7 linked regions of the Homo sapiens genome follow. The protein of the gene in region 2 interacts with the protein of the main gene of each other region in a pairwise test. Each region holds a gene or a part of one and is shown on either strand. Other genes may lie near its edges. The genes, in order: PCDHB3, TEPSIN, PSMA6, C1QTNF4, CTAG1B, ZIC1 and FLACC1.

Evidence for each region.
Region 1: the proteins of TEPSIN (region 2) and PCDHB3 interact in binary tests that used the Homo sapiens proteins (3 or more experiments, as listed by UniProt).
Region 3: the proteins of TEPSIN (region 2) and PSMA6 interact in binary tests that used the Homo sapiens proteins (3 or more experiments, as listed by UniProt).
Region 4: the proteins of TEPSIN (region 2) and C1QTNF4 interact in binary tests that used the Homo sapiens proteins (3 or more experiments, as listed by UniProt).
Region 5: the proteins of TEPSIN (region 2) and CTAG1B interact in binary tests that used the Homo sapiens proteins (3 or more experiments, as listed by UniProt).
Region 6: the proteins of TEPSIN (region 2) and ZIC1 interact in binary tests that used the Homo sapiens proteins (3 or more experiments, as listed by UniProt).
Region 7: the proteins of TEPSIN (region 2) and FLACC1 interact in binary tests that used the Homo sapiens proteins (3 or more experiments, as listed by UniProt).

Annotation. Positions count from the first base shown.
Region 1 is NC_000005.10:141,099,022-141,103,851, reverse strand, and holds PCDHB3 (protocadherin beta-3 precursor), read right to left. Parts: upstream 3,380-4,830; 5' UTR 3,203-3,379; coding exon 812-3,202; 3' UTR 25-811; downstream 1-24. UniProt on the Homo sapiens protein: Potential calcium-dependent cell-adhesion protein. May be involved in the establishment and maintenance of specific neuronal connections in the brain.
Region 2 is NC_000017.11:81,232,075-81,236,463, forward strand, and holds part of TEPSIN (AP-4 complex accessory subunit tepsin), read right to left. Parts: intron 3,210-4,389; exon of another isoform or gene 1,975-3,209; coding exon 1,907-1,974; exon of another isoform or gene 1,865-1,906; intron 1,643-1,864; coding exon 1,564-1,642; intron 1,528-1,563; exon of another isoform or gene 1,430-1,527; coding exon 1,358-1,429; intron 445-1,357; coding exon 241-444; intron 136-240; exon of another isoform or gene 1-135. UniProt on the Homo sapiens protein: Associates with the adapter-like complex 4 (AP-4) and may therefore play a role in vesicular trafficking of proteins at the trans-Golgi network.
Region 3 is NC_000014.9:35,309,374-35,313,762, forward strand, and holds part of PSMA6 (proteasome subunit alpha type-6), read left to right. Parts: intron 1-1,366; coding exon 1,367-1,522; intron 1,523-3,507; coding exon 3,508-3,686; intron 3,687-4,389. UniProt on the Homo sapiens protein: Component of the 20S core proteasome complex involved in the proteolytic degradation of most intracellular proteins. This complex plays numerous essential roles within the cell by associating with different regulatory particles.
Region 4 is NC_000011.10:47,591,223-47,596,274, reverse strand, and holds the start of C1QTNF4 (complement C1q tumor necrosis factor-related protein 4 precursor), read left to right. Parts: upstream 1-1,863; 5' UTR 1,864-2,127; intron 2,128-5,052. UniProt on the Homo sapiens protein: May be involved in the regulation of the inflammatory network. Its role as pro- or anti-inflammatory seems to be context dependent. Seems to have some role in regulating food intake and energy balance when administered in the brain.
Region 5 is NC_000023.11:154,616,220-154,620,528, reverse strand, and holds CTAG1B (cancer/testis antigen 1), read left to right. Parts: upstream 1-1,246; 5' UTR 1,247-1,310; coding exon 1,311-1,579; intron 1,580-2,255; coding exon 2,256-2,390; intron 2,391-2,629; coding exon 2,630-2,768; 3' UTR 2,769-2,920; downstream 2,921-4,309.
Region 6 is NC_000003.12:147,414,545-147,417,861, forward strand, and holds the end of ZIC1 (zinc finger protein ZIC 1), read left to right. Parts: 3' UTR 1-2,175; downstream 2,176-3,317. UniProt on the Homo sapiens protein: Acts as a transcriptional activator. Involved in neurogenesis. Plays important roles in the early stage of organogenesis of the CNS, as well as during dorsal spinal cord development and maturation of the cerebellum.
Region 7 is NC_000002.12:201,340,130-201,344,518, reverse strand, and holds part of FLACC1 (flagellum-associated coiled-coil domain-containing protein 1), read left to right. Parts: intron 1-255; coding exon 256-349; intron 350-2,087; coding exon 2,088-2,149; intron 2,150-4,389.

The sequences.
Region 1 (4,830 bases), on a different chromosome or scaffold from region 2:
TGTCAAATGGAAAAGAACAGTCAGTTTTTTAAATGGCATAGGTTTAATTTTTTTCCTCAGTCATCATGAACACACTTTAGATAAACCAAAGGGTAATTACCCATATTAGTCTATATTTGTGTCCATATTTTGGCCAATATAAGCACATAAAATATTGAAATATTAATTGCAAATGTCAACACAGAAAATGAACTAAATTACTTTCATTTGAGTACTATATCCCTAAAAAGATGATATATTACTATTTATTAAAGAAAACACATTCTTGTCTATCCTTAAAACTTTGTTAACTATAGACAAAGCTGCTTTGGGCATATTATAGAACACATTATATGAATATATTCAACAAGGGAAATTATAAAATTGGTGGTTTGGAACTCTCTCTACATTGCTTTATAATGTAAAATTTGAATGGAGTTATTTTAATAAGCTATTTGAAATCACTATTAAAAGACAGTGAATTTCTTTTTGCTCCCCATTAGAAAAAAAAAAGGCGGAATTAAGACTGCGTTGGCAAGCCAGGATGAAAGGAGAATATGCAAGGATTAACTACAGAAAAAGTAGAATCAATATATAAACAAAATGTTCTATCGACTAAGGATTCTCGATTGAAATACAAAACATTCAGAGCCACACAACTACTTTCCAGTACTGTTAATGAAACCTAAGCCATCCCTGGATTTGATATTTTGCTCTATTCTTGCTACTTGCCTTGAACCAGACCAAAAAAGACCTCTCCAATGGACAAAGCAGTAAAAAAGGACTTTCCACAGATTAACTAAGACGAGGCTCAGTAGATCCTTATTAACACTTAACTGAATTCAAAGCTCTTCCTGAAACTGGGATTTGCCTCGCTAACCCTCTCTGCACCCTGAGCAACGAAGTTGGGGATAATTGGCTTCAGGAACTTGAACTCATTTGTCCCGGAGCCTCCAGTCAGACACACCTCGTACTGGTAGCTCTGGGACAGGGTCCCGGTGCCGCTCACGTCCACCATCTGCCCTGGAAAGGGGCCCTCGGGCACCGAGCAGCGACCCACCGAGGCCGCCCTGCTCCTCCTGCACAGCCGCACCGCCACGAACAGGAGCACCGAAAAGAGGAAGAGCGAAGACACCGAGGCCAATGCCACCACCAGGTAGACGGTGAGCAAGTCGGCCTGGGCCTGGGCCGGTGCCGCCTCCGGGAGAGGCAGGTAGGGCTGGGAGAAGCCGTCCACCAGGAGCACATGCAGCGTGGCGGTGGCCGAGCGCGGAGGCTCGCCATTGTCCTTGACCAGCACCACCAGCCTGTGCTTGGCCGCGTCGCGCTCGCTCAGCAGCCTGGCGGTGCGCACTTCGCCATTGTGCGCCCACACGCCGAACAGCCCGGGCTCCGTGGCCTTGAGCAGCTGGTACGACAGCCAGGCGTTCTGGCCCGAGTCGCCGTCCACCGCCACCACCTTGGTCACCAGGTAGCCCGGCTCAGCCGCCCGGGGCACCAGCTCGGTGCAGGGCGCGGAGCCGTTCTGCAGCGGGTACAGCACGAAGGGCGAGTTGTCGTTGGCGTCCAGCACCAGCACGCGCACCAGCGCCTCGCTGCTCAAAGCCGGGGAGCCACGGTCTGTGGCGCCCACGCGGAACTCGAACGCCTGCAGGGCCTCGTAGTCCAGCGACCTGAGGGCAAACAGGTGGCCGTTGTCCGCGTTGATGGAGACCAGGGAAGAGAGGGGCAGGTGCGGGTCCTGGGGCGGCAGCAGCGAGTAGGTTACCTGGGCGTTGGTGCCTGAGTCTCTGTCTGTGGCGCTGACACTGCCGATGTGCAGGGCGGGGCTGTTGTTCTCGCGGACGAACAGGGTGTAGGAGATTTGGGTGAAGGCGGGGGCGTTGTCATTGACGTCGGAGACCAGCACGGTTATGTTGTACTTGGTTTTCAGCCTGGGTGTCCCCAGGTCAGTGATAGTGATGGTAATGTTGTACTCGGATCTGGTCTCTCTGTCCAGCGCGCCTTCTGACACTAGGGTGTAAAAATTCTCTACAGATGGTTTCAGGAAGAAGGGGAGATTGTTCTCAATGGAACACATCACTCTTCCGTTGTCTCCAGAGTCTAGATCAGAAACACTGAAAACAGCCAGTACAGTCTCTCCCGAGTTCTCAGGAATAGGGCTGTTTACTGAAGACAAGGTCAGTTCCGGTGGGTTGTCGTTGACATCAACCACCTGGACTATGACTGTAGACTTTCCGGATAGGCCTCCGCCATCCTTGGCCTCGATGTCGACTTCATAACTATTAATCGCTTCAAAATTCAAATATTTGACCAGTTGCATATCACCAGTAATTGGATTTAGCTGAAAAGTTTTGCGAATTTCTTCAGAAGCATGAAAAAATGCATATGATATTGTCCCAAAACTTCCTGTATCTAAGTCAGAAGCCGAGACAGTGACAATGACAGAGTTAACGGGGGTATTCTCTAGAACTGCAACCTCATAGAGCGGCTGTGCAAATTCTGGTGCATTGTCGTTTATATCTAAGACCTGGATGTTTATCTGGGCTGTCCCAGACCGAGGGGGAGAGCCGCCGTCCAGCGCGGTGAGCGTTAAGCTGAGTTCCGGCTGCTCCTCCGGATCGAGCGCTTTATCCAGTACTAGTTCCGGGTACTTCCTTCCGTCCCTACGACTGCGAGTGAGTACGTGGAAGTGGGAATTCGGAGTGATAGTGTAGTTTTGGAGGCTGTTTCTTCCCACATCCAAGTCCTCAGCATTTCCCAAAGGAATTACTGTTCCTGGCAGAGTGCTTTCTAGGATTTTCAGATGCATTTCATTTTCAAAGAATACCGGAGAATGGTCATTTACATCTATGATACGGAGCTCGTTTGTAACGAATTGCAAAGGGTTTTGCAGTAATATCTGAAAATGTAGTATGCATGGTTCTGTGGGGCCGCATAGCTCCTCCCGGTCCAATTTCTCATTCAGGAGCAAATCACCTGTCTGATGACTGAGCTGAAAATGCTGTTTGTTCCCTTTGGACACAACTTGGGCCCCCCTCGCGGCCAGTTCCTCTACCCTTAGTCCCAGATCCTTTGCTAGGTTGGCTATTAAAAAGCCCTTCTCTTTTTCCTCAGCCACAGAATAGCGTCTTGACTCGGACCCAGCCAGAGACCCTCCCAGAAAAACAAAGAGAAGCAAGACTTGCCTTTGTCTAAGAAATCGCTCTCCTCCCGCCTCCATTGCACTTTCCGTCACGCTCTTCCAGGGAATGTCGCCAAGCTGAACCTCAGACAGAGCTGGGAAACAGTCTTTTGCCCCACAACCTTTGTAGACGGCCTAGTGAATAAGCCTTTCCAGAGGCTCAGACTTGCTGGCTCAAAAATCTGCCTGGGCTCTCAACCGCTGGTTTACCACACTGGATCCGTGCGTCACCGAGCATGCACAATGCCTGTGGTTTAATTCGCCTTCTTAGTCAACAGCGCCACCATGCGTTCGCTTGCAGTTACAAAATCTTGGAGAAGGTGTTTTTATTTTGCTTTATCGATTATTCTTATCAACCCTAGTTGACGCTACTGGAGGAGTTTCTCATGTTATATGAATTAAATAAATGCAATCTAGGGAAATAAAATGCACTTTTATCTACGAGCAGCGATTCTTCCTGGTAGAGTCCTCATTTACACGATTTAACGGAAGTGTACACATACTAGTTTACCCCTCCCCTTTTGTAATAATTACACACAAACTTCAAAAGATTTTTGCTCTAGATGATAGCATGCTTCACTATCCTATTTATGTTTTTCTTTTTTTCCTAAACTTTGTGAAATGAGCCCGAATTGCATATACCAGAAAAACACAAGGAAAAGACACCTCCTGCAAGGTGGTAAAAAAGAAAATATATCATGTCAGAGGTGGATCCAGAGGACTACAAATACCTAATTTCTTCCAGATTATCATGCTCAAGGAACACTTAAAGTGCTTTCTCTTCTTATTTCAGAGCAAATTTACAATTATTCATTTCATCTGTATTAGTTTATTTCCACAGATAATTGTTGAGTTTGTAGAAGTTAGGCAAGTGGTGGTAACAAGACAATGTCTGTATATCTTACAACAATTTTCCATCTAGTGGGTGTACAGTCTTTAAACAGATGTTTAAACAGTGTGAAAAGTGCTACATAGAAAAGGTACTGAGTGCACTGAAAGTATGCAATACGGGGACCTAACTTAATGGAGAGTGATTAAGAAAGTTTCCCCCAAGGTGCACCATTTAATCTGAAACATGAAATAGGAGAAGTGTGCCAGGCTAAGACTGTAGAATGTGTGAAGGCCCTGAGAGAGCAAAGCATAGCTATTAATAGATAATGAATGAAGTACAGTGAATACAAAACTTAATGTCTCAAGAGTAAGTGGAAAGGAAGGCTGAAAAGGTAAACCAAGGCCAAATAATGGGCGCTTGGATTTTATTATTCTAAGAACAAAAGGAAGCCATTGCAAGGTTGTTGGTACAGAAATAAAACAGTGCAAATATGTGTTCAATGTAGCCGCTTTTGTACTTCTACACAATTATCAAGAATGTTTGCTCTTAATACTAGTGATACTAAAAATAACAGCAATTTCACTTTTATGTCTTTATATTGAGTATAACTGCAAGCTATTCAAATACCTGCTATCATTTGGGTAGAAGAAAAGAAACTTTGTGACTCATCCAAAATCCTACAGGTAATGAGTTGGTTGATCAGAGACTTTTGATACCAACACAGCGCTCTACACCATTGCTAATCTCAAAACAAGACCTTCAAAGTTAATATTAAAATTTTAATAGGATAGCTCATTCAAATGTATGTAAAAATGATATAAAAATATAAAGATAG
Region 2 (4,389 bases):
GCCCACCTCCCGGGGCCCTGGACCAGGAGGCCTCGGGGGCTGAGTCCTGAGCTGAGGATGGGTGGCCACCTTGGCTCCAGCTTCAGCAAACACCAGCCCCATGGGCATGTGCTTCCGCCGCGGGTCCCACCCCTCCTGCTGTGTGGGAGGCCCTGGGATTTGCCTCCGTGGCCGCAAAGCCCCAGCGGTGACAGGAAGGAGTGACCCAGACCCCAAGGGGAGGAGCCCTCGCCTCGATACCTCGGGGACCTGGAATGGCCCCGGGGAGTAGGTTCCCCAGGGTTGGGGGACCGTGGCTGGCTGAAGGCATCATGGCAGGCTGGTAGGTGTCACCCCGCGGCAGGAGCCTCCGGGTACTGGGACTCTCGGGCCCGGGGCGCATGGCGCTGGCCACCACCTCTGCGGCCTTCTGGATGGTGGAGAGGAAGGCTTCGCCTGCCGAGCCTGTACCCGAGGAGAGGGAGATGGGACGGCCGCCCAGTGCGGCCCCCACCCGCGTTCTCTGGGAGCAGGGTGCCCGCATCGGCTCCCTGCTCAAGCTTGGAGAGGTCGGGGTACATGCTGCAGGTAGGGAGGCCTCCTGGTGGGCCCCAGGCCCTCTGGAAGCTCCCAGTGGACTCCGCTTTGGCATTCCCACTCCCAGTGGGCCTGGACACCAAAGCTCACTGCAGAGTTATGCCTCCGTCCCTCTGTCCTCTGGGGGTGAAGGTGTCCTAAGGGGCTTGGGCTTGGCCTTGGCTCAGGGAGGGTGTGTCCAGGGCTCGGGGAGGGGCCGGCCTTTCCTGTGTGAGTTCCCTGTAGAAGCTGCCCCGACACCAAAGTGTCGGCAGGAGCCCCAGGCTGTGCGCAGGACGGCGTGACACAGCCTAACGGTGAGCAGCTACACACCGCCCAGGGCCCGGCAGCAGGGCACAGCTGGGCTGGGGGCTGGGTCCCAGCCGCAGGCAGTGGTGCCACCTGTGGCTCTCCTGGCGCTGGTGAGCAGTTGTCCACTGGTACTGCCCCACCTCATAACAGCTCCACACGGGACTGCCTGAGTCACCTGCACCACAGCCAGGGGCACAGCCCTCGGCCCCTCTCAGAGTGGGACTCACCCCTGCCACGGGGCCCAGCCCTGACTTCTTGCTCGGCCTGGTTTCTCTCATCTGTCCATAAAGCAGCCCTGGCCACACCTGCCCCACCCCCACGTCAGCAGCCAGAGAGAGACAGTGGGGACAGCCCCAGGAAGGGTTGAGGCCATGTAGGGGAGGGGACGGGGGACAGCAGCTACTAGATGGGGCGGCATGGTCCGGCCCCCACCACCTCCTCATCCCCACACCCTGAGATGCCAGAGCCCATGCAGGCCCTCCCCACTCACCCGTGCGGCCGTGTTCCTTGCTGTAGCCGAAACCCTGGAGGGTGCTGTGCGGCCTGGCCTGGGAGCCCATGCCTGCAGAGGGTCCTCCGTTAGCAGCAAGCCGGCCCCCACCCTCGGCCCTGCCCACGGATGGCACAGACACCCAGGACACTCAAGGAGGCAGAAACCAGGTGCCAGAGCTGGACACGGTCCCCTCAGTCACCTACCTGTGGCAGGCGGGGTCCCCAGAGGCTGGGAGGGAGCCAGCGGCAACACGGTGTCCGAGAACAGGGTGCTCCCCAAGTCCTACAGGGGGAGGCGAAGGCCCTCAGTGTCCTCACACCAGGGCCTGCTGTACTCACCCTGCCACCCATATCAGCTCCGTTCTGTCCCCCGGACACTTCTCCTGAGCCACTCAGCTGGACACAGGCTCTGTGTCCACCAGCAAGGAGCAGAGGCAGGGGTCCCGGATGGGAGAACTGCAAACCCCCCAGCTGACATCCTGGCCCCAATCCCACCCCTCTACAGGAGGAGGGGCACCCCGCAGAGCGACACTGCTCCTGGGCTCACCTGCGCGGCCGCGCGAACCTTCTGGTACAAGCTGTTCCCGTGCAGAGGATCTGGGGGCCCTGCAAAAGCTGCAGAACAGAAAAGGCAAGTCGGGGGCAGGGCTGAGCCTGGCACCGCTGCTCCCTGTGGAGCACGGTGCCCTGGGCCCACTCCAGGGTGGCAAGTTCCTGCCACCAAGGCCCTTCTGTCACAGCCAATGGGATGCCCTCCTCCAGGACCCTGCAGAGGCCACACCTGAGCAGACCCTCAGCTCCCCCTCACCCATGCCCCACAGAGGCGAGACTCTCTCCACAGCAACCACCTCGTCTCCCCCAGGGTCGGCAACCCCTGGTGCCTGAGCGGGTGTGGCCTCCCCGAAGCCCACTCTCCCTGCCCCAGGTGCACCAGGGACCCCTCAGAGGCTTCCGGGGCCTGGAGGGAGAAACCAGCGTTCTTATCACAGCCTGAAAGCTCCACCTAGCCCCACCCAACCCCAGTCTCAGCCGCCTCGAGCTCCCCTGCTCTGAGAGTTCCTGTCATGATGAACTGGGGCTTCTTTCCTTAAATCTTCCGGCCCCAGGGCCCCCCAAGCCTACACCTGGGGCCGCGGCATCCTTTCAGGGCTCAGGCTGAGAGCTGTGCCTCTGAGAACCCCTCGAGAGCCTCTGTCACAGGCGAATCCACTCACGCCCCTCGGCCGTCTACCTCCACCCTGGCAGGCTGGTCCCGTGATTCGGAGACGATGCTCCTGGCTGTCCCTGGGCCCAGGGCTGGCGGCCACAAGCTGAGTCAATGGCTGGATGAACTGACACCCTGAGGCTGCCATCTTCCCTGCAGGAGCCCAGGGCACCCACCTGCCACCCCACGCTGCCCCTGCTCTGTGACAGAGCAGGAGCATCACCATCTTGGACAAGCCCCTCATTCTAAAGTTCACCTTAACCAAAAACTGCCTAAATCCATAGGGCATCAGCCTAATGGCTAAGGTCAGCACGACCATGAACCACAAATAACATCTCCAACCAGAAACATTCCAAACTCCTCCCCAACCAGAGACATGCTAGCCCCAAGATAACCCTTCTCCAGCCGGGAAGATGCCAGCTTCGAGAAAACCCACCTCCAGGCTGAAAAGATGCCTGCCCCAAGATAACCTTCCCTCCTTCCAACCCTGCCATAAACTTCTCCACACACATAAACATTCCGAGCTTCTGATAAGCCCTCTCATCCTAAAACCAACATTCAGTCTGTAAGATAAAGTGCTCCTGACCGCAATCGGCTGGGGGTGCCTCTCAGGTTTTAACTAAAGAAAATCTGTCTGTAACTGCCAGCTGCGTTTTCTTTCCTCTTTCTGACGCTCTGCGCGCGTGGGGCAGGCCATCCTCACTGCACACCCACCACCTGGAGCAGGGCGCCCCGTCTCTCACGTGTGGCATCTGGCACCCACTTTCCTCACAGGGCCTGTCCTGACACCTCCCACAGCCTGTGTGTCACCCAGGGCCAGTGTCCAGGCACGGCAGGCAACAGCCATCATCCATAGCTGCCTCTGCACAGGAGAGACTCTGGTGCCGACAAGAACCCAGGGTCTGAAGAAGAGCCTTTCCCATCCTCAGGTCCTGCTGTGCCCCATCCCCCTACCTGCTGCAGCCCCCACCCCAGGGCGTGTCCCCGAGACCACTGAGGCCACGACGTACATGCACCAACCACAGCCACGGGAGTGGCCTGGAGCCCGGGGCCCTCTGGCCCGCTGAATGGTGAGGATAAATGGCTGGTGCTGCCTTGGCCCCAAAGCTGTGAGGAGCTCTGTGAGGATGGCGAGAGCACCCCCGCACTGCCGTCCCCTCAGGGGCATCTACTGCCTAAGTCATGTGTCACAACTGTCTATGGCGGCCCAGGGCACTGGCCCCTGCGGAACACCTAGAGCTGCATGCCCACTTGCCATAAAGTGGGACAACACTGGTTTCGACACCGGTTTTGGGGTGAGCCCAGTGGATGGTACACCCTGAGGTCTCCACAAGCAAGCAGTGGCACGAGACAGACTCAGTCTCCCTCCCCAGAATTCCCCACTCAGGGGCTGGGGTGGGGTCCAGACATGGTGCGCCCAGTGACCACCTGGAGCCAGGCCTCCCTCCACCCCATGGAAGATCTCAGGCCAAGCCCCCACAAGTCCTCATTAGGCAGAGGCACATGGGACTGCCCCCAAGCCTGCGGGGACAGCTCCCCCAGACCCATCTTCTGCCTGGACAGACCGACTGGCCGGGGCCCCGCCTCTCCTGCCTCCCAGCTCCGCCCTCCCATGGCCTCACTCTGTCTTGGGCTCCGAGGAGCAGCCCCAGAAGGGGAACCCACAGCCTGGGAAGGATGTGTGAACAGGCACTGAGTCTGCTATGTGTGGGCACTGGGATGGAGGGGGAAGACCCGTGGGGCACACAGAGAAACAAACTGGCACCCGGGGCAGCAAGCGCAGGGACAGACGCAGCCAAAGGCCCAGGGACGCATAGGAGGCACGG
Region 3 (4,389 bases), on a different chromosome or scaffold from region 2:
GCACAGTGGCTCACAGTTGTAATCCCAGCACTTTGGGAGGCCAAGGTGAGAGGATTGTTTAAGACCAAGAGTTCAAAACCAGCCTGGGCAACATGGTGAGACTCCATCTCTATAACAAATTTAGAAATTAGCTAGGGGCTGGTCACGGTGGCTCACACCTGTAATCCCAGCACTTTGGGAGGCCGAGGCAGGCGGATCACTTGAGGTCAGGAATTCGAGATCAGCCTGGCCAGCGTGGTGAAACTCCATCTCTACCAAAAATACAAAAATTAGCTGGGCATGGTGGCGCACGCACACCTGTAATCCCAGCTATTCAGGAGGGTGAGGCAGGAGAATTGCTTGAACTCGGGAGGCAGAGGTTGCAGTGAGCTGAGATTGTACTACTGCACTCCAGCCTCGGCAACAGAGTGAGACTGTCTCAAAAAATAAAAACAAAAATACCAAAAAACTTAACCAGCTATGGTGGCAGGTGCCTGTAATCCCAACTACTCAGGAGGCTGAGGCAGGAGAATCGCTTGAACCCGGGAGGTAGAGGTTGCAGTGAGCCAAGATCATGAGACTGTACTGCAGCCTGGGCAACGGAGCAAGACTCCATTTGAAGAAGAAAAAAAAATTAGCTGGTATGGTGGCACATACCTGTAGTCCTAGCTACTCAGGAGGCTGAGGTAGGAGGATCACTTGAGCCAAGGAATTCAAGGCTGCAGTGAGCTATGATGGCTCACTGGGTGCCAGTCCAAGACCCCATCTCTAAAAAAAAAATGAAAAACTAATTTAAGCCTAAAAACAAAGATTAAGAAAGATTATTCTCTCTCAAGGCCTTTTTTTTTTTTTTTGGAGACAGAGTCTCACTTTGTCGCCCAGGCTGCTCCGCCTCCTGGGTTCAAGCAATTCTCGTGCCTCAACCTCCCAGGTAGCTGGGACTACAGGCATGCACCACCACGTGCAGCTAATTTTATGTTTTTAGTAGAGACAGGATTTAGCCATGTTGGCCAGGCTGGTCTCAAACTCCTGGCCTCAAGTGATCCGCCTCTCTTGGCCTCCCAAAGTGTTGAGCCACCATGCCCTGCCTCCTTAATGCTTTTTCTTTTGGGAGTTACTGGATACTTGCAGAAACTATTTTGACTGCTGATGAAAGGCTCAGTATAAAAGGGGAGTACTGTGTAGAGAGCTTCATGTTTTTAAATTTTTTTCATATACTTGTTGATGAGTTATTTAGTATTCATTGGGGGAGAAAAAGCCGTAGCGGACCCTTTCTCTTTAACTCATGTATGTCTATATGGTGGGAAAATTGCCTGGCTAAATTGCCTGGCTTTCAGGTTTGTTCTTTCCTTCTAACCAGGTAAATCTTTGTTTTTTATGCTATAAGCTGACAGCAGATCCCAGGTACAGAGGGCACGCTATGAGGCAGCTAACTGGAAATACAAGTATGGCTATGAGATTCCTGTGGACATGCTGTGTAAAAGAATTGCCGATATTTCTCAGGTCTACACACAGAATGCTGAAATGAGGCCTCTTGGTTGTTGTAAGTATGCTAAGAGGTCTCCCAAATAATTGATGAATTGAAACTTTTTACAGAACATGTATACAGAATTATTTAAATAACACTTGAGTTCTGAACATGTGGTTTGGAAAATACATAGAGTGGGAAAATCTTTATAATAAATCAGAACTAAAGGATAGGTTTCACAACAGTATGTCGGGCATTATCTTTAAGCTTTAGATGCTGTTAGACTTTTTATCAAAGTATTTCCATTTGGTGTATGTGATTTGAAAGATGCAAGTCCTCATTATTAGGATGTTGTAATGAGGTTCTACTGCAATTCGAGATTACTAATTCCATAGAAATACCTGCATCAGGCATCTTAATAATGTAGCTGTTTGTTTTGACCACCCTAAAGAATTAGGGTCACACACAGGTGTGTAATTCACATTTTTAGAATAAATTTCTATTTTTGAAAACAAGTAAAATTGTATTGGGAGAGGGATGAGATTTACTGATTTTTAGATGTGATGTAATAAATTAGCCTGAAAAATTCAGTGCATGTTTGTTTCTGACATTGTGTCATTCATTTATGAGCATTAAAGCAGTCAGTGTAATGATTTCTGTTTAGCATCTGACCCTCTTGACTTCTCACTTAAAAATTACTTAAATCATATTCATCTTGCAAGACCTTGAAGGAAAGAAGTATTTGTTGTTTCCCCAAGCAGTAAGTGGGTACTTTTTTGTGTTGCCCTTATATTTTGTATATATCAAATATAAGAAAGCAGTCAAACCATTAAGTACTTTGTTACCTGTTCTACTGAGTAGAAAGAAATTTAATGATGGTGTTTATTTTAATTGTATTCCTATAATATGGTAACATTAGAATTGTAGTAACAAAGTTACATGTATAGAATTTAGAGCTTGGTTTGTGTGACTTACTAGAGGAGTATATACCAACAGTAATGAAGATGGGCAGTGTAAAGGTGAGCAGGTAGCCTGTAAGTGTATTTCAGTTTGTGCCAGCATTCCCAAAGTGTGTCCCATACACTGTTCCCTGGAACCTTAATAGGTATTTCTATTTTAAAAAAAAAGTATTTCTTGGTCAAACAAACAGAAGAACTACTGAGTTAAAGTTAAATAGGTCAATCTACAACAGAATATTTCACAGCATTTAATATGCTATTATTTATTATCTGTTTCCAGAAAAGGTATATGAAAGTGTTTTTGGGCCAGGCACAGTGGTGCACACTTATAATCCCAGCACTTTGGGAGGCCGAGGCAGGAGGATCACTTGAACCCAGGAGTTCAAGACCACCCTGGGCAACAGCGAGTCCTCGTCTCCTAAAAAAAAAAAAAAAAAAAAAGGTTGGCCAGATGCAGTGGCTCACGCCTGTAATCCCAGCACTTTGGGAGGACGAGGCAGGTGGATCACAAGGTCAGGAGATCAAGACCAGTCCTGGCTAACACGGCGAAACCCGGTCTCTACTAAAAACACAAAAAATTAGCTGGGCGTGGTGGTGGGCACCTGTAGTCCCAGCTACTCGGGAGGCTGAGGCAGGAGAATGGCGTGAACCCGGGAGGAGGAGCTTGCAGTGAGCCGAGATCGTGCCACTGCACTCCAGCCTGGGAGACAGAGCGAGAGTCTGTCTCAAAAAAAAAAAAAAAAAAAAAAAAAAGTGTTTTTGAAGTTTATTTGACCAGGCAACATCTTGAAGGATTAGGGTTCAAATAAACATGCTTGGATAACAGCAAGGATTGGAAACACTATTTTTAAATTGTATTTGTAATTATTCAAACTATTTTTTTTAATCTGTGATAAATCCTTTTGTGAAATGGGAATTTACCTGTTACCTAATTTACCTGTGGTGATAACCTGTATTTTATCAGTTTTCTTAAAGGAAAATACATATCCTAAAATTGATGGCCAAAGTCATGATTAGCAGCAGCTATGTGACACCACCAAGAAAGAGGAGATGTCATTGTATAAAGCTAAAACATTTAATTAGGGTCTTTTCTCTTTTTAGGTATGATTTTAATTGGTATAGATGAAGAGCAAGGCCCTCAGGTATATAAGTGTGATCCTGCAGGTTACTACTGTGGGTTTAAAGCCACTGCAGCGGGAGTTAAACAAACTGAGTCAACCAGCTTCCTTGAAAAAAAAGTGAAGAAGAAATTTGATTGGACATTTGAACAGACAGTGGAAGTAAGTCAACCAAAAGGAGCTGACTTTTTTTATGCTATATAGAACAGTGAGGATCTTTGTATAATTTCTATACAAAGCTATTCCTGAATTACATCCCAGGATTCAAGTTGTCAACTTAATAATGAAATTGATATCATACAGCTGACATAGGAAAATTTGAGTTGCTTTTATTCACTTAATTCCTTATTTCGTAATGTATTTGAGGTGGCTTTCAACAAAACGCATATAATAGGAAAATATAAATAAAAATAGGAACCAGCTGGGCATGGTGGCACACACCTGTAGTCCCAGCTACTTGAGAGGCTGAAGCTGGAGGACTGCTTGAGTCTAGGTGTTCGAGGCCAGTCCTATTTACTGCCAAGAAATTAAAAACAAAAATTTTAGTAGATTTTGGGTGTAAGTCTGGAATTAAAGCCATTCTGAAGATGCTAACAACATGCTTCTGATAAGTGACCAAAAAAAAATTACCATCTAATGCTTTTACGTTTGGTTTGGAAGTATGCTTAAAGGAGATAAAAAGCTAGTTCATGTTCAGGAAGTACTGGGCCCTGTCTAAATATTTCTTAAAGGTTTCTTTTATTGCAATTCATAATTAATTACATAAATAACCACATCCGGTAAAAAAACACTTAAGGTGGCTCACACCTGTAATCCCAGCACTTTGGGAGGCAGACAGATCACCTGAGGTCAGGAGTTTGAGACC
Region 4 (5,052 bases), on a different chromosome or scaffold from region 2:
AAAATTGTGGCTGCAAAACAAGAGAGGAGGGAGCAGGGACTATAACCAGCCTAGGGCTTTTCTCTGGATCCTGCTGCCACCTCTTCTTAACTCCCATTCTGGAGCCCACCCATCTGCCTTACACCCACCAGCTCATGGCATCATCTTTCTCTATATCCCTTTCCCAGTGGCTTCCTCCCTATCCCAGTCCCCTGATGCAAATCCTGATGTCATCTGCCCCAGCCACCCATCTCTACCTCAACCCTCACTTCTCTGGTGAGAACTCTTGTGGATCCAGGGAGTGTCAAATCCCAGCCTGAACCAAACCTCAACTGAGATTATATTATCCTATAATATACCTTCTCCCCTCCCCTCCCCTCCCACCATTGGAATCACCCTCAGGAGAGCAGCTCCACTCTTCTCATCCAGAAGGGGCCCATGGCCCTAAGAAGGGCCATAGATTGCCATAGGTTGGCTTTTGGCATCCCCCAGCTCTCCTTCGACATCCCTGTGTGGCTCATCCCACCCTTACCCTGCTTCTTGTCCTCCCCACAGTCCTGTGGCCCAAGCTTTTCAAGTTGGTGAAAGAGACAGTTGTGATCTGACAAGGGCTAGACAGGTGCTTCACCCTCTGTCACCAAATACCCTCATTATCCAGCCCAAAACACCTCCATTCATTCCTTTCTATTCTGGCACATATTCGTTAATTCATTCCATCATTCACCTAACACCCTTGAAGCAGAGCCAATCACCTCTACCAACATCTTCCTAGAGACAAATAGATTAACTGGGGTGGGGTAAACTTTGAGAGCTCCAAAAGGAAAGCTCCAGAGGACGGGGGTTCTGCAGGGGTCCAGGCCTCTCAGGGACCACAGAGCAGACCTGCAGCAGAGGCAGAATTAGAGCCCATGGCTCTGGAGTCAACCAGGGCCAGGCAGAGGGCACCAGCTCTTGGCTGCTGAAAGTAGAGCTCTTCAAAAGTCATCCACTCAGTCAGCATCTACTGAGTGCCAGGCAGTGTCGTCACCTCTACAGCCGTCAGGGGAGAGAACAGCAGCCTAGAGAAAGGGAGTCTGAGCCCCCATCCCACGGGCTCGAAGCCCAGAGTAGAGGCCAGCACTAGTGCCTCTGGTGAGTATTACCATGGGAAGACCGCTGTTCCCAGCCCGGGTGCCCTGCTGGACTCTTGCTAGCCTGGCCCCAGCGAGGCAGGGCATCAGTTTCCCTCTCCAGAGGCCTTTCTTCCCCACCTATTGCCCTCTCAATCCTGTCCCTTCTTGCAGGAGCAACCTTCCCAGCAGAAAATTCCATTCTGCCCCAAGGACTCTCCTCCTTACTGCCCCTCACCCCGGGGAACGCAGGCTGCCCCTCTGATGCCTGCAGACTCCCTTCTCCCTCTTTCCTAACCGACCGTGGGCATTTTCCAATTTGGAGGTGAGGAGGAAAAACTAGGTTATTTTCAGCTCTTCCTTTACTGGCAACATTGACCCATTTATCCTTCTCTTCCTTCAGACCTCTCCCCCAAGGCCACTTAGCTTGGACATCTGTCCCAGCCAAAATCTCACCTTCCACTGTCCTTGCAGCCCAAAGGCTAGTCCAGCCTCTGAGTCCAGCTCTAGCCCTCTCTCCCCACACTAGGAAGGAAGCTGGACTGTAGAGCGCTCTGGGCCACCCCGCGTTAGCTGCTGCCTCTGGCCTCAGTTTCCCCAACTGCTCAGATTAATGATGCCTGCTCTCTAGACCCAGAGGACGAAGCTCTAAGGAGGTCACAGATGAGGAAGGGTCCAGTGCTCGGCGCAGACTCCGTGCGGAGCCCCTAGGCCCCGCAGCTCGCCCCTCCCTCTCCCCTACTCCCCTCCTCTCCCCCTCCCGTCTCTCCCCCGCCTCTTCGCTCTCGCTCGGCTCCCTCTCTAGCTGACCTTCCCTTTCCCTCACGCCTCCCCACGCCCGGCCCCTGGCCCCAGCACCCTGTCCGCTGCCGCCTCAGAGCCGGGAAAAGCAGCCGGAGCCCCCGCCGCCCCTGCCGCAGCGCGGGCGGTCAGCGCGCAGCCCGGCACCCGCAGCCTGCAGCCTGCAGCCCGCAGCCCGCAGCCCGGAGCCAGATCGCGGGCTCAGACCGAACCCGACTCGACCGCCGCCCCCAGCCAGGTGAGGGCAGCTGAGGGGAGGCAGGGAGCCGAGGTTCCCCCTTTACTGGAAGCGAGGGCTGGGGAGGCGCGGGGAAATTGGGTCCTTTTTCCTTGAAAGGAGGACCTGGGAGCCTTTTCGTGAAACAGGCACAAGGGCTTTCATTCCAAAGGGATGGATGGATGGAGGGAAGGTCTCGGGGGAGAGGGATTGGTTTTTGTTTTTTAAAAATAAGGATTAATTGGCTTCTGTGAAAGTGGGACTTCTTGGAAGGATGAGGGGCTTTCAAGGTAGGTTGGGGAGGGGGCTCTGGCAGGGCTTGAGGGAAGGGTTAACTGGTGAGTGGCAGGGCAAGGGGGAACTCTGCGATCCCCTCAGCCTGACATCGCTGCACCTCCCGCCTTGGCTCCGGGGCTCTGGGTCTCTCCAGCTCTGTGTCCCAGTTTTTCTCTTTGAAGATGACTATTTTGAACCCCACCTGGACAGAGCCAGGAACAGCCATTTCCTTCCCTGGAGCTATGACACCCACCTGACACACCCTCCCACACCTCTGACCTGCTCAGGGAAGGGGGTTCAGGGAAGGACGAGGATCCAGGGATCTGGGAATTGGGCAGTGTGGGTGAAACGGAGGCTGGGTACTGGGTGCACAGGAAGACCCTTGGCACTGGTGGGGTGCACCAGCCTTGGTCAGGAGGTTGCTGGGCAGCTGCTTCTGGGGCAGGACCCACTAGGAAAGCAGCGGTATGGAAAAGCTGAGCTGTTTTCCGTGTTCCCAGAAGACAAAACACTAGAGAATGTGTTTGCTTGCTTTTGTTTGGTTTTGCTTTCTGTCTTCCTCACCCTGGATCCCAAGACTCATTCCTCTGATCTCCTCTCCTAGTTTTGCAAAAAGGTAAACTGAGGCACAGAACAAATTGGCTGGACATACCTGTGTCTAGGAGGGAAGAGTGACAGGAAGGCATACGGAATTTGAGTCAAAAAACCTCAGTGCTCCATGGGTGACCTTGGGCCAAAATGCTTTCCCTTGTTGGGCCTCAGCTTTCTCATCTATAAAATGGGAGACGGCCCACCTGTCTTGTAGGTTTGCCAAGACCATGTGTCTAAAAGAACTTTGTAAAAGGGAATGCACTGGACACTTGTGAGGTGCCATCTTCACCACTGTGGATGGCCCCTTCCCTCCTCCCTGTCCTAACCAAGGGACACCTAACTAATCCATAGGACACCTTTGTGAGAATTACAAAAAGCACCTCCTCTGGAAGGAGACAGCATTCAGTTGGCTAGCAACTTGGGGTCTTTAGTATGAGAATGAGAAGGTGGCATACTTTACGCCAGGTGCTGCTCTAACATGTGGAGTGTGAGCTAGATTCTAGCTGGGACGTTCTGCACATCTACACCTGACAACCCTTCTCAGCAGGTCCCTGCTGTCTCTAAGAGACACAGAGCTACACATACAGGGCATTTTCTAAAGCAGCCCACATCCCAGGCTGTCTCCAGCTCATTTCTTTCCTGTTTTGTTTCCACATCAGGGCTTTTGGGTATTCAAGCCCCAAAGCACGTGCCCTACTAGGAAGCAGGATGGAATCCCTACATCAGAGAGTGACTCCTTTGAGTTAAGCAGTGCCTTCACCAAGCTCTCAGGGGTAGGAGTGACTGAGTCCCTAAACCCTTACGTCAAGAACTGGACCAGATCACTTTTGTCAGGGCAACCGACAGAAGCATCTGCACACCTCAGCACTGCCGTTGACAAACCATGTTCACACCTATCTCAGCACACCCCCACAGCAAGCCTGTGTGTGAGGTCTCTTCCCCATTTACATGGAGGAAGCCATGCCCAGAGAAGTTAGGGAACCTGCCCAAGGTTTCACAGTGTGAGTGGTAGAGCCAGGACCTGAACCCAGATCTGGCTATCTGTCCTCTCCAATCCATCACTCCCAAGGAACAAAGCTGCTGACTTCACAGCCTTGCCAAAGCCCTGCTGGAATTGTTGCTGTCCCTGTCCATCCCCAGTAGCCCCTGGCTCGCCACTCCTTCTTCTGAGTAACCAGCCTCCAAGCAAAGAGAAAGGAGTCACCTTCTCTTTTACTCTGATTTCAAGGGGGAGGAAGCTACCTCAAAGCCCAACTGTTCTCGCCTCCTCTGTGCAGGAAGGGCCCCTGGTGAGGCCAGGAAAGGGGTCAGGGAGCAGCGATTTCCTTTCCTGCTCAGATGGGGCTTAAACAGTAACGGTCATGCAGAGCGTTGACACAGAGAGCCAGTGCCTGCGTGAGTGGCAGACCAAGGACCATAAAATAACCACAGGAAAATGCAGCCAACTGGAGCTGAGGGGAACTCAGAGACTCCCCTGAATCCCCCGGGTTACCAGGGCCCCTGAGTGTCAAATGGGAGGTGTAGGGGCAAGCCCAGCAGACAGGGCTGTAGGCCTCTTTAACCAGAGTGTTTCTGCTAGTCTGTGTTCAAGCTTTCACTTAAGAAAGGGGTTTCGGCCGGGCGCGGTGGCTCACGCCTGTAATCCCAGCACTTTGGGAGGCCGAGGCAGGCGGATCACAAGGTCAAGAGATCAAGACCATCCTGGCCAACATGGTGAAACCCTGTCTCTACTAAAAATACAAAAATTAGCTGGGTGTGCTGGGTGCAAGCCTGTAGTCCCAGCTACTTGGGAGGCTGAGGCGGGAGAATCGCTTGAACCTGGGAGGTGGAGGCTGCAGTGAGCCGAGATCAAGCCACTGCACTCCAGCCTGGCGACACAGCCAGACTCCGTCTCAAAAAAAAAAGGGGGGGGGGCGGGGTTTCAAGGCCAGGCGCGATGGCTCACGCCTGTAATCCCAGCACTTTGGGAGGCTGAGGCAGGTGGATCACTTGAGGTCAGTTCAAGACCAGCCTGGCCAACATGGTGAAACCCCGTCTCTACTAAAGATACAAAAAATTAGCTGGGCGTGATGGTGCGCA
Region 5 (4,309 bases), on a different chromosome or scaffold from region 2:
CCCTCTACGGTGCTATCAAACACTAGAACTTAATCCTTCTATGCAACTATATGTTTGTCCCCATTAACCTCCCCACCCTCCCCACCTTTCCCAGCGTCTGGTAACCATCATTCTGCTCTACCTCCAAAAGATCAACGTTTTTAGTTTCCACATGAGTGCCAATATGCTTTTCCCAGGTGCAGAGGCTGCTGATTCCTGGATTTGGAAGGTGGGGGAGAGTGGTTTGGATTTCAGTACCTCCCCCTTCCTCAGGGCTAGGCCCTGTCTGGTCACCTCCTGTTGCTACAGGTGTGCCTGGCACAGACATTCAGCTCCCGGGGCCGTGCCGCCCTCACCCCTGCATGCCTCTAGAGGTACCTGTCCCGTGGATTTGACCCCCTTCCAGACACACAAATAGATCACCACTGAGCAGACACAGGGTCACCTCCCAGCTCCCTACCAGGCAAGAGCGACCAGGGCAGGGACTGATACTGCCGAACCCAGGAGCCAGGCCCGACCCAGCCTCAGGTCCAGCAGGTCCCGCCTGTCCACCTGGGCCAGGCCTAGAGCCCGGGAGCCCCTGGCTGGTGGGAGGCCACCCGCAACCCACCCCACACGCAGCTCCAGCTCCCCCACCAGGCGGGGCGACTAGGACAGGGACAGAACCCGTTGAACCCAGGAGTGAGATCCGGCCCCGGGTCCCGCTGGGCCCTCCCGTCCACCTTGGCTGGACCTGGCGCCTGGGAGACCTTGGCTGGCGCGAGGCCACGCCCACCAGACATGCAGTTCCAGCTACCCCACCAGCTGGGCGACCAGGACAGGGACGGAGGCTGCTGAGCCCAGTTAGAGGCCTGCCCCCCGGGGTCTGTCCTGGGCGCTCCCCCAAGGACGGACAGGGCAGGCAGGGTCCGGGACGATGGCCGCACAGTCCCGGCCCCGTGTTCCCAGGCCCGTCTTGCTCCTCGATGTGAGGGAGACCCGGGGGATGGGACAGGCTGGGCCCCGCAGTGCCTGACTCCCTGCAGGGCTCCCGGGACAGGGGTCCGGCGGACAGCCGGCTGCTCAGGGGTGAGGGGTCCAAGCTGGCATTGCGGCCACCTTCCGGCCCGGGCTCTCTTGGGGAGGGGCGGGGTTGGTGAGAACCGGTCACGTGCTCCGGGGCTCACTCGGGGTCTCCCAGGGCCGGAAGTAGGGCCCCTGTGCGCAGGCGCCCTGAGGATCCCGGGCTGCCCATCTCACGCCAGGGGGCGGAACTTCCTGCAGCCTCTCTGCCTCCGCATCCTCGTGGGCCCTGACCTTCTCTCTGAGAGCCGGGCAGAGGCTCCGGAGCCATGCAGGCCGAAGGCCGGGGCACAGGGGGTTCGACGGGCGATGCTGATGGCCCAGGAGGCCCTGGCATTCCTGATGGCCCAGGGGGCAATGCTGGCGGCCCAGGAGAGGCGGGTGCCACGGGCGGCAGAGGTCCCCGGGGCGCAGGGGCAGCAAGGGCCTCGGGGCCGGGAGGAGGCGCCCCGCGGGGTCCGCATGGCGGCGCGGCTTCAGGGCTGAATGGATGCTGCAGATGCGGGGCCAGGGGGCCGGAGAGCCGCCTGCTTGAGTTGTATTCTGTTCTGTTCTGTTCTGTTCTGTTCTGACAGTTCTGGTGGCGAGGTGGGGGCCGGGAGATGGGGAGGGCAGGGCCAGGTGGGGGAGGAGGCGGGGGAGATGCGAGTAAGTGGTTGGGTGGGGGTGGGGGTGGGGGTTGGGAGGTGGGGATATGAGAGGCCAGCTGCGAGGAGGGGAGGAGGTAAGGGCTGGGAGGTAGAGGGGGTGGGGGTGGGGGAGAGGGGCTGGGTGATTGGGTGAGGGGCACCGGGTCATGCGGGGAGGGGAGCAGGGGCCAGGAGATAGGGGGACCCAGGTGTAGGAGGGGATCAGGAGGTGGGGGGAAGGGGGCAAGATGGGAGCGGGTGGCGGGAGGTGGTTGGGATGGAGGGTCGAGTGATGAGGAGGGGGCCGGGTGATGCCACAGGGGGCAGGGTGGGGAGGGGTCTTGTAAGGGCATGGAGGAGTCAGCTTGGGGTGCAGCAAAGGAAAGTGGGGAACCAAGACAGCTGGGTGGGGTGTGCTACTGGGCCAGTGCCTGGGGAGACAGCCTGGGGGGGATGGGCTGGGCAATCCGGGGTAGGGGGGAGGGGTGGGGGAGTGGGGGAGGGGGAAGCTGGCCTGGGGTAAGCAGCAGGCCGGAGCCACAGGCCAAGTCCTAGGAGAGGATGCCTTAACTGGGCCCCCACCAGCTACCTCGCCATGCCTTTCGCGACACCCATGGAAGCAGAGCTGGCCCGCAGGAGCCTGGCCCAGGATGCCCCACCGCTTCCCGTGCCAGGGGTGCTTCTGAAGGAGTTCACTGTGTCCGGCAACATACTGACTATGTCAGTTCAGGACCAGGACAGGGATGGGGCCTGGGTGGGTGGCGGTCACAGCGTGGCAGGGTGGGGGCTGGGATCCGCCTACACCCCACGGTCAGGCTGCTAGAAACCTGGGAACACCCCAGCACAGGGTCTCAGAACAGAGACCTGGTACACCAGGCCCGCCGCCACCCGAGGGAGCCCAGGGAGATGGGTGCAGAGGTGTCGCCTTTAACGTGATGTTCTCTGCCCCTCACATTTAGCCGACTGACTGCTGCAGACCACCGCCAACTGCAGCTCTCCATCAGCTCCTGTCTCCAGCAGCTTTCCCTGTTGATGTGGATCACGCAGTGCTTTCTGCCCGTGTTTTTGGCTCAGCCTCCCTCAGGGCAGAGGCGCTAAGCCCAGCCTGGCGCCCCTTCCTAGGTCATGCCTCCTCCCCTAGGGAATGGTCCCAGCACGAGTGGCCAGTTCATTGTGGGGGCCTGATTGTTTGTCGCTGGAGGAGGACGGCTTACATGTTTGTTTCTGTAGAAAATAAAACTGAGCTACGATTCCGTGTCTGAGTCTCTTTTCGGCGAGCGAAGGCACCTTCGGACTTGCATGCCCTTGTCCTCGGGTTGCAGGGGAGGCTCTGGGATTCACAGATTGAAGTAGCACAAGGTAACGGGAGGCAATTTGGGAAATGGGGGAAAATGAAAAGCCACTGGGTCCCGCCATTCAGCATTAACTACTGTGGACATTTTAGAATATTTTCCTCAATATACTTGCATTTATATGTTAAATATATGACAGTAGCATATATAATGTTTTTCCAGGTCAGCATTAAATTTTTTCCCAAATTGTTTTCATTGAACATATGAGCTTTTTTACTTGGGAAAAATTCTTTGAAAACGTACTTGAATAGATGCATAGAACCAGCATTATCATATCACTGTTAAGCATGTGATATGGGTTGGGCATGGTGGCCCACACCTGTATTTCCAGCGCTGTGGGAGGCTTGAAGCGGGAGGATGGCTTGAGACCTGCAGTTGGAGGCCACCCTGGGCAATGTAGCGAGATTCTGTCTGTAGAAAAATCATTAAAAGGCCGGGTGCGGTGGCTCATGCCTGTAATCCCAGCACTTTGGGAGGCCGAGGCGGGCGGATCACCTGAGGTCAGGAGTTGGAGACCAGCCTGGCCAACATAGTGAAACTCCATCTCTACTAAAAATACACACACAAAAAAAACAACAACAAAAAAACATTAGCCAGGCGTGGTGGTGTGCGCCTGTGATCCCAGCTACTTGGGAGGCTGAGGCAGGAGAATCACGTGAACCTGGAAGGTGGAGGTTGCAGTGAGCCGAGATGGTGCCACTGCACCCCAGCCTGGGCAACAGAACAAGACTCTGTCTCAAAAAAAAAAAAAAAAAAGAAAGAAAAGAAAAGAAAAAATTAGCAGGGTGTGGTGGTGTGTGCCTGTGATCCCAGCTACTTGGGAGGTTGAGGTAGGAGAATCACTTGAACCCAGGAGGTGGAGGGTGCAGGGAGCCGAGATCATGCCACTGCACTCCAGCCAGGTTGACAGAAAAAGACTCTGTCAAAAAAAAAATTTTTCTTTAAATTAGGTGGGTGTGGTGGCAGGCACCTGTAGTCCCAGTTACTCAGGAGGCTGAGGTGTGAGGTGGAAGGATGTGTTGAGTCCAGGAGCTGGATGCTGCAGTGAGCTATGAATGCACCCCTGAGCTCCAGCCTGGGTGACAGAGTGAGACCCTGCCTCTAAAATAATGATAATAGTAATTCAAATAATCTAAAATCTTTGTGAACATGTAATATAACCAAAACACAGGTTCATTCCCTCATCGCTTGGAGATCCAATTAACAAGAGCGTGGTCTGCTATAAAGAAACGGACTTTCTGCCATGCTTGATTTAGGGGAAGACGTACAGGCTCCTGCCTTTAAGGG
Region 6 (3,317 bases), on a different chromosome or scaffold from region 2:
AAAGATTCTTAAATCTCCGTGATTGTGGTAGGAATTTCTTCTTCACCCACCAGCAACCTGCTGCCTCTTCTGCCAGTCTTAAAGGGTCTCCAGAAAAGCTCTCCAGTCTCCCTTGCCTTCCCTTTCTGTCACTGCAGGTCGTATAAACGTGATAAATGAATGCTACCCTGCTGGCTCTCCGAGAGAGTGTAATTAGTATTTATATCAAAATTTATGAAACAAATTTTCGGCCGCAGTATAATTTAAATGACCTTTGCAGATGTAGAATAACAACCATAAAAATAACAGGAATAGATTGCACAGGCGACATCAATATTAATGTAGACGAATTGTCAGAAGCTCAGGGGCTCGCTCTGCAACATTGCAAATGAACTTGCAGCCGAGGGTTCCGCTGCCCCCTAGATTAAATTCCCCGGGCTGAAACTGAGTTGCAGATTTACAATATCATATTTTAAATTGCTGTCTTCAATTAAACCATTTATGACCATAACTAATTTTCAGGATGTCGATGCATGCTTTTCCAGGCCTTCCTTCTTTGTACAAAAGTAAATGTCCATAAAGCGTTTCACTTATATTCTTCAAACATGATGCTAATTTAAATTAATTACTTCCTATGATATGTTATTATTCCTATGATTTTGCCACTGTTATTAGTTCTCTCAAAAATACATCTAGGGAAGAGGATTATTTTAAGTAATTTGATTATCTTTCTATCTCTTTTATTTATTTCTCATTTACTTAAGAAATTCGTTCCATTGGTTGGCATTGATACAGTAAATTTGTAAATGAGGAGACAATATAAAAAATCTAAATTACTTGTGCTTAATGACTGTAGCAGAATGCCTTTTCTCTAAATCAGATTGTCTTTCTTGCAGTTTAGTTTGATAGATTTGCAAGCTATGCTGCTTCCATGAAGTTAGCTGCGCTGGTAGGAACGCAGGCTTCTTTGTCTCTGGTTGTAGCTTGCATGATCGCCCCATTAGGCAGACAACGTAGCCGGAGATCACAAATCAGGCCCTTGGCTGTAGTTGCTAGTGTGTGGAGGTGCAGAGCAGGTGGCAGAAACTGACCTCACTGGGCAAGGGTGGCCATGGACCTGATTCTTTAATGCACTCTATGTGTTCAGGAAGCCACAGGCCATATTTGACTCTGAGAAAGAAAACAAGAGGAAAAACCCCACAAAGTATAACAACCCCTTAAGATACATCTATTTTAAAGTGAAATTAATTTTTCAGTTTATACCATTGGCCAATTACAAGATAAAAATGTTCAATTTCTTTAAGAATCCTTTGTTGACTTGTCTTTTCATCTCTTGCTATTTATATTTGTCACTGTTTCAACAAAGTCTTATTTGCTGAGGAAGGACTTTGCTGCACTTACTGTACCACATCAAACACTGGGGAGGGTGGTGTTTAACTTTTTAAAAAATGTTATTCTGATTATAACAATAATATTGGCTTTTTTCATGAAAAGAGCGCCACCTTGCAAGGTTTAGTGAGATTTATGGAAGTTGAATACCTAAGCAGGAATTGCTGCTAGCTCCAAAAATTTGCGAAGCAAAAGCTAGCCCCAATTGGTTTGGAAGTTTGAAACTGATTAACAGATTTGCATTTGAAGTGACTCCAGACATTAGGTCCAGACATTAGTTAAAAATAGAAAGAGGAATAAAGACATCTCTTCTCTCTAGAAAAGATAACACCACAATTAATAATCCTTCCCACTTTCATTGAGATCAGCTTGTCTGATAACCTGATATGAGTGTGATAATGATAAACATGATAATAGTGGTACTTTTGTAATTTTGCTGGTGCATTTAAGAAGATAGTAAATGATGAGTTCATCTTTTCTTCGAACATTCCTATTCCTAGATGTAGTTTACCTCAAATTGGGAATTATAACTGTCTAATTTTTGTTGTGTACCTGATGCCCCTTTTGCTTTAATACCACAGTGTAACAATTAAATATCACACTATGACATATGATTTAAGTAGGATATTTTAAAGATAAATTTTAGGGGTAAATGTTTACTTCAAAATGACTCCATATTTCAAATATCTGTTTAGACTGTGAAGGCCAAATAATTTTTAAGAAAACATTTGAAGAGTAGTGTGTTTGCATTTGTGAATAATCTTACTCACAGCAAGTAAACGTAATAAAAGCCAACATTTAAGCCAACCCTCCTGTGCATTCTCTTTTCCAACACCTATCACAAAGAAAAAGTCATTAATGATGTAGGTGGCCTAAAATAATCCTTCGAAGTTAAATGTAGTCTATTATTTTGCTGGTACCTTTAATATCTGCTTCTTGAGATGTATTCTTCATACTTTTTTTCATGGGCTATTAGGTTTTGAAATACATAAATGTGAACAGCAAAATATATTGTTAGACTCTCTTTAGCAGGAGCTGAAGATGCTGCAAATAGCTGTTTCCTGTGTGTAGCTTTAGATTCTGACTTAGGTAGAATGCTGTCCTGGTTCATTTTGCAATTGCATTGTATTCTGAATACTATCAAATGATTAGAACAGCTAACAAGTTATTAAAAAGTTATGTTGTGTCAACAGAAAATGCCTGAGTACAAGCAATCATATTTGAGAAATGAAGAGAAATGAGTTGTGGTATGTGTGTGTGTGCATTTGTAGAGCAAGCATATAAATATACAAGCACCATTTATATGGGGGCTAAGTAATTTCAAACATTTCAGATCCTTTGTTTTCTTCTTCAAAAGCTACCCCCAACTGCTTTAAGCGTTTGCAGCTGATGATTTTGATTTTTTAAAGTCAAGCATTCAAGTTAACCTTTAAAAAGCAAACCACCTCCAAAAGAAAGATGTAACCTTTCAATTGCCCCATCTGCTTATCTTTTTTTTTTCTTTCTTTCTTATTTTTTTTTTTTCCTGACAATGAAAGTAGCACTAACCTTCTTTGCTGATAGGCCTGGCATTTAGATGCTTTTATTGTGAAGTTTTCTCAGAACTTTTAAAGGGCTGGCCAGAGAATTATACCCTCAAGTACCTCACCTAGCCCCAAAAGCTTCCAGAAGTTTTCTTTTTGAGGCCAACATTAAATCAGTGTCTAGGACCCCTTGTGAGTCGGTGCTGTTGGAGTTGTTACCTGAGCATACTGCTTTTCAGGAAGTGAGTTGGAGAAGGCCCTAGACCTTAAAGAGAAGATTTAGTTTAAGATGTTATGAGGAGTTACTGCAGGTGGTCTGGCACACTCAAAATAAAGGAACTTGTGCCCTTGGCTGTGGACTAGATATAAAGACATCAGCTCTTACACATTCCCAAGTTACATTTCTTTTCTTTTTCCAACTTATAA
Region 7 (4,389 bases), on a different chromosome or scaffold from region 2:
CCAAACCATCCTGTTCAAGTCTAGTGAGCTTACCCACAAGAGCCAGATCTGAGCCTCAACTGCCCTATAGCCAAATGCCTTCTGTAAGACCACCCCTATCCCTCCACCCCCACCCCATAATGATAGAGCAGGTGCAGAACATGGCCAGCTCTCACCAGGCCAGCTCTCACCATGCCAGAGTCAGTCATGCTCAGGGGCCTGAATGGCATGGAATGGTAAGCTTTGTGGATGATAGAAGAATTACTTCTCCTACAGGACCAACATCATTTCTGACCTAGAAGAGCAAATCTCAGAGCTGACAGCAATAATTGAACAAATGAACAGAGACCACCAGTCTGCCCAGAAATTGGTGAGTGACCTTACATTAGCTAACATCTTCATGGACAAAATAAAATTAATATTTTTGAATCACCTATGTGCCAGGCAAAATGCCAAGCACTTTACTCATATGAGCCATGTTGTCCAGGTGACAGGACCCTAAAGATTGGACTGTGTCACTCAGTAGTATTTCTCTGACATCTTTATCTGTAATTCCAAGAACTCAAGTTCTTCCACAAAGCTTAACTCATTTATTTCCAGGAGCTCTCCAAGTACCTCTGTGTGTGTGCAGTGACACTGTCCTCCTCACACTAGGGTGCACTTGTTGTTTTCTGTCTGGCCTTTGTGGTGCAATTAAGTTTCAGAGCTTGTGAGGCTCTCACTAACGACACCAGCGCACTTAATGTGCAGGGCTTACTCTCTGACTGTTAAAGCTGCCCACACATCAGAATCTGCAGATGTCATTTGACACTCTTTGTGATTCCTGAGGATTTCAGTGACACCTTTTTAGCTTTTACCATCTGTTTCATCTGGTGACTTCTTCCTCACCTCAAACAGGTGTGCCTGTTGGCCTGGCCTGGAGTGACAGCCAGTGCTGTGTTCAGAAATATCCTCCCCAGGGTTGTTGAACCCCACCCCATCTGTGAAGTTTTACTTCCCAGAAGGCAGCCTCTCACCCTCTGATATGCCCCAGATGTGTCTGAATCCTACAGTGACCCAGCTTATGACTCAGGCTGGGTCCTATCCTGAGACCACCCTCCTCCGCCTGCCAACTATTGATTCATTACCTTATTTATCTGAAAACACTGCCAGGTTTATGGTCTCCTTCTATAGAAAGGAAAATGAGACTCAGGGAAGTTAAACAATTTGCATACAATCTCTCAACTGAACAGTGGTAGATCATTGGACAAAATGAACATTTTAAGTCATAGGCACAGATCCTGCTGAAGACATATTTAGAGACTATTTCCATGAAGGGATCCTAGACTGTGTTACTGAAAATACTGCCACTTGTGAAGATGCTATTTGTTGTGTGGCCCTGTGGAAGGGAGTAGTGTTGGCTGACGCTGGGCTGTTCTCTGTCTGTCAGAGTGGCTCTGCTGACCACTTGTTGTGTGACACAGTCCCTGGCTTCTCCCCAGTAGTCAGAGAGGTACAAGGACAAGCCCTAAACCCTTGTCCTAGCTGACAGTGGTCACCGACTGATTTGAAGTATTGATTTATCCTGAGACACTGGCCAGAGGATCTGACATGTTAGAATGAAGTATCACCTGAAAGTGAGCAAATCCTGCCTGCTAGAATGGAACTATACTGTCAACAAGGATTAACACTAGATTTTAAGTTCCTCGAAGGCAAGATCTGAGTCTTAGTCCTCCTTGGCTCTTCCAAGCCAAGCCTTTTGTTCAATAAATGATTGCTCAATTGGATTACATATCCAAAAATCTGAAGGCCATGATGTAACAGAAATGACGATCTAGCACAGGAGACCAGACCTACCCAAAAAAAATAGTCAGTGAAAGAGATGCACCAACATTATGAACTGAATAAGTACAAAACAACATAGAGCAAGGCACAAATTGTTCTGTTCCCTTATTAATAATGTGCTCTCTGGCACTGCAGAGCACAGTGGAAGAGGGGTGGGAAGGGGGCTGTGCCCCATGAATTGGAAGGCGGCTGTGCCCCATAAATTGGAAGGCTTTTCAGAAGGTGCAGATCAGAATGGGACAGGGTCCTCAGTCCTGTGTTGTAGATGCTGATTTTGTTTCCAGCTCTCCAGTGAAATGGATCTCCGCTGTGCTGAGATGAAACAGAACTTTGAAAACAAGAACAGGTACACTTTCTGGCATGGACCCTTGTGTGTGTTGATGGCTCTAAGGGTCCCGCATCCTTTGCAGGATTTTAGTTCACTGGGACTTCAAATAGTTCTAAATGGAGTTGGGGGATGAAGGGTGGGGGAGATGAACAAGACACGTGTCTTTGAAGAGCAGAATGGCTTGATTCAAAGCCACTAAAATAAACCACAAAGAAAGTTATTACTGCTTTTACATTTTATCATCCAATCCTTTCATTTCAATTATAATCTCCCTTTTTGTTGGTTACTGAGAAGAGTCATTTTTGTTCTCTATGAGATTTCTGTGATAAATAACTGTTGTTCTCAGCCAAGGCTCCTCCTCCACCATCTCCTCGTTCTTCTCTTCCTCCTCCTCTTTTTCTTTGTCTCACCTCTACTCTCCCTGGCTGCTAGGTCAGGGCCTCAGCAAAATAGGAAGAAAGTATAAGAGAATCAGGAGCAAAGTCAAATCAAGAGAAAATTGAAAGGAGTCCAAATACAGAAAGACAGAGAATAGAACATGGTTACCATGGTCCGGTAGGAGGAAGAAAATGGGGAGATATTGATCAAATCATACAATGTTGCAAATATGTAGGGTGAACAAGTTTATATTGTTTACAAAGATATAATGTAAAAAATGAGAGCTATAGTTAATAATAATGTATGATATTAAGAACTGTTGCTAAATGAGTTTATAGCTGTTCTCACCACAGAGGGAAAATGGTTAACTAAGTGAAATGATGGATATGTTAATTTGTTCCACTCTAGTAAACTTTTTACTATATGTATATAGTAATCTCCACTATTATAACCATTTGTGTATATATATATATACATACATATAAACTCTACCTATATATATATGCTTGTGTAGTGTGAGTGTATATATATAGTAAAAATTATGTGTAATATATATAGTATAATGGTTACTATAGTAGAGATGCATATATATATGATTTATATATATATATATATATGAATCTTATGACATCATGTTGTATACCTCAAATATACACAATAAAATTTATTTTTAAAGGAGTTTTCTTATGTGTATGGGTGAAGATAATCCTACATCCCCTTTCAGGCTACTTGCTGCACACCAGAGCAGCCTTAGAAATCCTGGTGGAGAGATAGCACTCTTAGTTGAGTCATAGCCATTTACACATTTATTTATCTATAGACTTTATCTGTTAGAGCAGTTTTAGGTTTACAGCAAAAATGAGGAGAAAGTACAGAGAGTTCCTGTGCACCTGCTCCTAATCAAATTCAATCAAATTAAACTCAAAGATGAGTACACCAAGACACATAATAATCAAACTATCAAAAATCAAAGACAAAGCAAAAATTCTGAGAGCATCAGAAGGTAAGAAACACGTCACATACAAAGGAGTGCCAATACAATTGTAATTTCTTAACAGAAACCCTGCAGGCCAGGAGTCAGTGTGATGATGTATTAAAAGTGCTGAAGGAAAAAACTGCCTACCAAGAATACCTTAGCAAAGCTGTCTTCCCCAGTTGAGGGAGAAATAGAAACTTTCCCAAACAAAAATTAAGGGAGTTCATTACCACTATGCCTGCCTTACAGAAATTGCAAAAGGAAGTTTTAAAAACGGAAACAGAAAGCTGCTAATAACATGAAACATATGAATGCACAACACTCAATGGTATAAGCAAAATAGAGCCATACTCAGAATACTTTAGGACTGTGATGATGGGATGTAAGACAATTTTATCCCAATATGAGAGTAAAAACACAAAACTATTAATAACAACTATAGCTAAAATAAATTTTCAATGATAAATCATATTATAAAATGATATCAATTCTGACATCAAAAACAAAATGTTAGGGAGGGAGTAAAACTGTTGAGTTATTGCTTGCAACTAAACTTGTTGTCAGCTTGAAATAGCTTATTACAAGAACAAGATATTCTAACTAAGTGTCATGGTAACCACAAAGATAAAAATCTTTAGCAGTAGCACAACACAAAAATAGAAATGATTCAAAGCATACACTACAAAAAACATCAAACCACAAAAGAAGAGACCAAGAGAGGAAGAAAGAATCTACAAAACAACAAAACAAAAATTAACAAAATGGCAGTAGTAAGTTCTTACCTATTAATAATTACCTTGAATGTAAATGGATTAAATTCTCTGATTAAAAAAAATAGAATGCGTGAATGGATTTTTTAAAAACAAGAACCAACTATACGCTGCCTACAAGAGACTCATGTCAC